2 linked regions of the Homo sapiens genome follow. The protein of the gene in region 2 interacts with the protein of the main gene of each other region in a pairwise test. Each region holds a gene or a part of one and is shown on either strand. Other genes may lie near its edges.

Region 1 (3,500 bases), on a different chromosome or scaffold from region 2:
CAAGCTAAGCTTGCCTGCCCACCTCCTCACCCACCTAGGCCCCACCTGATGCAGAACCCAGGCCTCAGTACCTCTCATCCTCCGACCTCCTCGGCCACTCCCTGACCTCTGCCACTTAAGCTACCCATTGACTGTTAAGATGTCACAGCCACCGGGCCTCTGCACATCTGGCCAGAAAGGCACGAAGCCGCACCCCCGAGCGCACACTGCGGCCTCCCCCACACCTGCCTTGTCCTTCTACTGACTCTCCTTGCTTCTCCAGCCCTTGGGGACAGAGACCCCTCTGCATTCAGGGGTGCATCCAGTTTGAGGCAGCAGTGAGACACCCATTCTGCCGGCAGAAGCCTGGGTCAGGGTGGGCGCAGGTCCCAACTCTGGCCAGATGGGGCAGGTGGTGAGGTCTCTGAGGAAGGGACCCGGCTCATAAGGAGGCCCTGGACAAGATGACCTGCCTCTCTCTCCGTCTTGGGGCCGCCTGGTCTAAATGTGACCAGGTACCCCTGGAGCCCTCCAGAGCCCCACTCCAAGGGGACCAGGACAAAGCCAAAGATAAGGGAGGTGGGGTGTCAGGTGGAAGGTGTCGCCCCTCACTGGGCGCTCAAGTCAAGTCTCGGGGCTGACTGTGCCCTCCAGTTTGTGCACCCAAAGCCACCCTACAGGATGACCCCCAACTTCTGCACTGAATCCCACCCCTCCCACTGTCTGAGGGACACTGCTTATTGATATTTCTTCTATCTCTTATTTCTCCAACTCCTCCCTCTTTACCCGTCCCTCCCCAGCAGCATCTAAACACATTGGGCTGGGCATGATGGCTCACGCCTATAATCCCAGCACTTTGGGAGGACAAGGCGGGTGATCACCTGAGGTCAGGAGTTCGAGACCAGCCTGGCCAACATGGCCCTGTCTCTACTGAAAATGCAAAAAATTAGTCGGGCGTGGTGGCGGGCACCTGTAATCCCAGCTACCTGAGAGGCTGAGGCAGGAGAATTGCTTGAGCTTGCAAGGTGGAGGTTGCAGTGAGCCGAGATGGCGCCACTGCACTCCAGTGTGGGTGACAGAGTGAGACTCCATCTCAAAAAATAAAAAAGGAAATAAATAAACACATCAGAATATTCTGGGTTGGAAACTTCTCCCTTTACCCCATGATCCCTCTCTAAACGATTTCTCAGACAAGACTCACTCCAGATCTTCACCTCCCCTTTATCTCAGCCTGGTGCCTGCTTGCCACTCCCCGCACCCCCCTCCTTCCCCCAGGCAGCTGAGGACACCCTCACTCAACTCAGCCCCCCGGGCCTGTCGCAGGTGCTTGCCTCCCTTGGCCTCCATGTGTTCGCCCCCTCAGTCCCTTTCTCCCCCTTTACCAACCCCTCTCCCGTTGGACCCTCACATGCTGGGGTGCGCGGCCTGTGTTCTGAGCCCTGTCCTCCGCTCTACGCAACCGCCGGGCAACATGAGCTACTCATTCCTGTGGCTGCGATTGTGCATGGTGTGATTCCTAAATCCATCATCTCCATTCTGGATTCCTGAGCTTTGGCCCTAACCACCAACTGCACGGCCCACTGTGTTTCCAAGGGGCCTGTGTTTCCTCTCACCCCCTACACCTATGTCCCCTCCTGTGCTCCCCGCACCATGGTTGGCACCACCATCTGCCCAGAAACCCAGGCCAGAAGTAGCATGTGCCTCCCAGTGACGAGCCACATAGTGTCAAGGCGGCCTCCGAGACATCACTCCAATCAGTCTATGTCCCCGCTGTCACCACCATGGATCTGCTGTCACCTGCGTCACCCCAGAACCGGTCTTCCTGCATCAGGTCCCATCCCTCTACCTCTTTTTGACATGGCAGTCATGGTATTGCCACTTATGGAGTGGTCCCTGGGCTACCCAGCGGTGACAGACGGTTATGGAACCAGAAAGGGAGCATTTCAAAACCTTTCTAGCAGCGTGATGGTTCACGGTCCACATTGTTACTGTGCTTTGCAGAAGTTTTGGTCCACACACAACAGGTTAGAAACTTAAAACACAACACCAGAAATGGTCCTTCACCACAGAGTTCGTGAAGCTCCATTCTACAACAGTTGAGGCCCAGGCTTTAAGGCGTGGGGTGCAGAACTGGCTGTACTGTGGCTAACCCAGCTTCACAACACAGACCTAAACCTTCCACGAGTCTCTCCCACGCTTCCAGGATACACTCCTCACTCCTCTCCAAGCCAGGTCCCCGACTCCTCCCCAAGCCAGGCCTCCAACTCCTCCCCAAGCCAGGCTCCCAATTCTGCACCCCCACCTCTGGCCACTCCAAGAACCCCTCCTACTCTGGGCTTCAGCCACCCTAAGCTCTGGGTTCCCCATTCCCTCCAAGGGCTCCTTCCTCTGCCCGGAACACTTTTCTCCCCTTGTTTTCACCTGGCCAACTCCAACACACCCTTTACATCTAGCCAAGATATCATCACCCACAGAAAGCACTTCTTGGCTGGGTACGATGGCTCACGCCTGTAATCCCAGCACTTTGGGAAGCCAAGGTGGGCGGATCATGAGTTCAAGAGATCAAGACCATCCTGGCCAACATGGTGAAACCACATCTCTACTAAAAATACAAAAATTAGCTGGGTGTGGTGGCGCACGCCTGTAGTCCCAGCTACTTGGGAGGCTGAGGCAGGAGAATCGCTTGAATCTGGGAGGCAGAGGTTGCAGTGAGCCAAGATCTTGCCACTGTACTCCAGCCTGGGCAACAAGAGCAAGACTCCATCTCCAAAAAAAAAAGAAAGCACTTCTTGGCTTCAATCTTCCTGGGCTATAAGCATAAGCACCCTCTCCTTCCTCATAATGGCACCAGCTTCCAAGTGGCCACCCCCCCGCCCCAGAAAGGGAAAGCAGCCCTTAGCTCAGTCACCCAAGCCAAAGCACCGTCTGAGGTGTCTTCCTCCCCTGCTCATTACACCATCAGGTCGTCAATATGCAACTGGCGCCCAAGTTCATGGATTCTACCCCTTCACCCCACCTGCCCCCCATGCTCCCTCCCTCAGGCTCAACCTACTGACTTAATTCAGACCCCACCATCTCTCACCTAAACAACTGCCCTGTTTGCTCCCCTGCAGGCCTCACTGCTCCCCAGGCTGGTCCCTGTAGCTTGTCCTACACCACCGGCCACACAACCCAAGCCACCCTCTCCCTTGTTTAAAACTCTTGTGGCTTCCCGCTGCCTTTAGAAACGGTTTTTTTTTTTTTTTTTTTGAGACGGAGTCTCGCTCTGTCGCCCAGGCTGGAGTGCAGTGGTGCGATCTCGGCTCACTGCAAGCTCTGCCTCCCAGGTTCACGCCATTCTCCTGCCTCAGCCTCCCAAGTAGCTGGGACTACAGGCGCCCGCTACCACGCCTGGCTAATTTTTTGTATTTTTAGTAGAGACGGGGTTTCACCGTGTTAGCCAGGATGGTCTCGATCTCCTGACCTCGTGATCCGCCCGCCTCGGCCTCCCAAAGTGCTGGGATTACAGGCGTGAGCCACCG
Region 2 (3,500 bases):
GCAGGGTCAGTGATGCGGTGCCCACTGCGTCACAGCAACCCTCCTCACCACAGGCGTCCTTCTGGCTCTGGGGCCACTGGCTGAGAAAGAGGCTCCCTTGACCCTTTTTTGGCTCCTTGGTGCCAGGGCTCCATTCTGTAGCAGGAAAGAAACTGAGTCAATGCCTCTGGAAGGCCAAGTGCTGGATGCTGGAAGCACCTTTTTGTGGACTAAATGATGAATCCTCTGCAGCACACACCTGAGGCTTGGACCACTTTGGGGGACTCTCTTTCAGCCAAATACAATCCCAATCTCTCCCTGAAACCCTCCCTGGCCCCTGCCCCCCGATCTCATGCATCCATCAATCCATCCATCTGTTCATTCATCCACCCATCTGTCCATCATCTTTGCCTTTCTTCCTTCTATCCGTCTACTTATCCATCCATCCATCTGTCCATCCATTTGTCTGACTATCCATCTTTATCTTCCTGCCTTCCTTCCATCCATCCACCCCTTCATCCTTCCTTCCATCATTCCTTTATTCGAATTACCTTTCTTTTCTTTCCTCTCCTTCCTTACTTTTCCTCATTCCTTCCACTATTCCTTCTCTCCAACCATCCATAGTGCCAGGCTGCGAAAACAAGGATGTTGTGGACACAGTTCCTGCCTTCAGTGAGCACATGGCTTAGTGAAGGAGTCACACATTCTTACAGAACATGTGGTCTGAGCCACACACTTTGGTCTCTCATTCTGGATTCTACTTTTGTTTTATTACTCACAGGTGATTCAGCTCACTTGTCAGTGCCAGGCCTTGACCTGAGTGCTGGGGACACAGTTGTGAGTCAGAGCTAGACTGTGCCCTGCAGGAGCTCATAACAAGAAAAAAAGAGAGACATGCCCAGAAATAGCCCCAGGATAAGGTAGATGAACACCATGAGGTGGCAGAGGGAAGAAATGGAGAACAGGGTGGCTGAGGCTGCTTCTGTCTGAGAAGGTTCCTTCCAGAAGGAAGTAGGGTTGCAGCGAGGCCTTACATCCAGGGGTATTGGGGAGGAAGGCATGGCAGGCAGGGATAACTGTGGGCAAAGGCCTGGAAGCATCAAGGAGACATTGTGAGTCACTGGATATGGCTAGAGTGTGGAGCAGGGACAAGATTGGTGGCAGACACAGGTTTCTCACTAAAGAGACTGAGCATTTATTCTCCCAATGCAGACATACTTTGGGGACCATCACAGGATCCTCCACAGCAGTGGTGGGAAACCTGGCCACCCACCAGATGGCTGTGCACTGTGCTGCCCAATAGCAGGCACCGGGATCTGTCTGGATGCAGCCAGAAAGGACCTGTGCCTCAGTGTTACCTGTTGATAATAATAGACCAGATCCCACCAGCTTTTGGCCCCCTAGCCCAGCGGCTTGGGGGCTGAGCTTCGGGGCTAAGGCTGTCTTCCTAGCACTATTCCAGCAAAGGAAAGAGCTGCTCTAGCCTGAGCCAATTTAGAAGGAAACAACATTTTTAGCAAAACATCCCTAGAGTCTTTTCCAGGAGTTCCTCCGGTTGCCGAATTCAGCCCCTAGCCTGTGAGCTGAAATAACAGTACCCACTGATAATAGCCCTTTCCCCAGAGACACACACACCTGCAGCTTCCCACTCATATTTACAGATGCCTTAAACATCTACGAAGCTCCCTCGTCCCAGGTCTGGGCACACAGACATAGACACACTCCTATCTGTTGTTCCTTTGACTTAGTTACACATACACAAGTACATACATGACAGACATATGCACAAATGTGTACACAGACATGCTTAGACACACCACTCTTGCATTTTCTCTAACAAATACACTAAAACCTTCAAAACTCCTTTTGGCACACTTTTGCTCACACATTCGTACACACAGACATGCACCAATGGTGGGTGGGGTGGGTGGGACCAGAACTGCCTCCAGTCCAGCAGCCCCATCCAACAGGGAAATATCTATGGGTCCCTTCTGGAGAAGAGGTAGGAGGAAGGTCTCCTCTCTGGGAAGAGCTCAACCGTCTCTCTCCTACAGCTCCCCATCCTAAAGCCCTCTGGCTCCTAGAAGCCTGTCCAGGACCCAGAGTTCAGCTTGCTATCCACAGCTCTGATTCCTTGGCCTTCCTGCAATGCTCCAGGACACAGAATGTTCAGGATGACTTTGCTCTTATTTTCTCAGGTAGATTAATTTGGACCCTCCCAATACGGGTGTCTCTCAGTTATCCATCCATGCTCATAGCCCAGAGGAAATTGTTCTTTTGGCTAACATGAGTATGATCACTCTCTTAGTGACTGCTGACTCTAGGCAATGGCCATGGCCATCAGCCTACCTTCTTGGAACCATATAGTCTGACTGGTTAGATCAGAACAACACACAGAATCCTGGGCATAAAGTAGGAGAAGCTTGGGAGGTGGCTGGCTTTCCTGGGAAGAATGTGAGCTCCTCAATAAAGTAAGTCCCAGGAAACAGATCCCAGAGTCAACAGTCTGCACTATGCCTGGATAATTTACGCATCTACCCAATACCCCAGAGAGGGAGGACCAGGCCTCATGTCCTCAAGGTACCTCCATGAGATAGATGCCAAATGACCCCAGCTACCAATCAAATTTCTCTTCTATACATCTTGGCATCTCCATGCTGTAGTTTCACCCTGAACCCAGCTAGGGTAAACACTTCCTTCAATGTACTCTGGACACCCGTTTGATTCCAAAGTTAAGCCAATTACTACATGGCGCCTATTTCTCTTCTCAAAGTATGTTGAGATCAGGGCCTCTGGGTTTGCTTACAAAAGCTGTGCCCTGCACAGGGGAACCCAGCAAAATAAGCCTGTGGGGGCTGGAAACAGCCCGTCCCTCGGGGCTGTGCCCACCAGAGAGGCTGCTTTGTCTTGCTTTGCATGAAGATGCTTTATGTACATGCTGCAGCCCTGATTGGCTTCCTGGGAAGGACCTCCTCCTTGCAGGCCCACTCTACCCCAGTTCCAACCCCACTCACCCATCAAGTGGTGCCTCTCCACAGCAGGGTCAGCCTTGGGCTTGGAACAGATCTTGGCAAACACTGGGAGCTGCCTCTTCTGAGCAGGGAGCTCAGGGAGCTTGTCAGGACGTGCAGGAGGAGGTCGGGGAGGCAGCAGCAGAAATGGGCTCAGCCCTGTGGGCTCCTTGGGTCCAGGGCCACTGAACAGGTTGTCCTGTAGGAAGTCCTTGGTGACCCTTGTCTTGTCCAGCACATTCTTGTTGTCAGGGACCTTGGATGTCTCAGTGGACTTCAGTGGGAACTGGGACAGAAGCTTGCTGACTTGCAAGTTGGAGTCACCTAGGATGCGGCCCCTGTCCTCTGTCCCCTTGCTGCTCTTGACCTCGGCGGCACACAGAATGTCTGTGACAGTAGAAGTGGCAGAATCACAGTCCTGCCTGCTGCTGATAACGGGCATGGCCACCTTCTGCTTCAGAAGCTTGTCTCCGACAATGATGGAGGCTCTGGGGCGCTCATTACTGCCTG

Evidence for each region.
Region 1: the proteins of C1orf94 (region 2) and CHERP interact in binary tests that used the Homo sapiens proteins (3 or more experiments, as listed by UniProt).

What each region holds. Positions count from the first base shown.
Region 1 is NC_000019.10:16,535,938-16,539,437, forward strand, and holds part of CHERP (calcium homeostasis endoplasmic reticulum protein), read right to left. Parts: intron 1-3,500. UniProt on the Homo sapiens protein: Involved in calcium homeostasis, growth and proliferation.
Region 2 is NC_000001.11:34,197,407-34,200,906, reverse strand, and holds part of C1orf94 (uncharacterized protein C1orf94), read right to left. Parts: coding exon 2,994-3,500; intron 136-2,993; coding exon 1-135.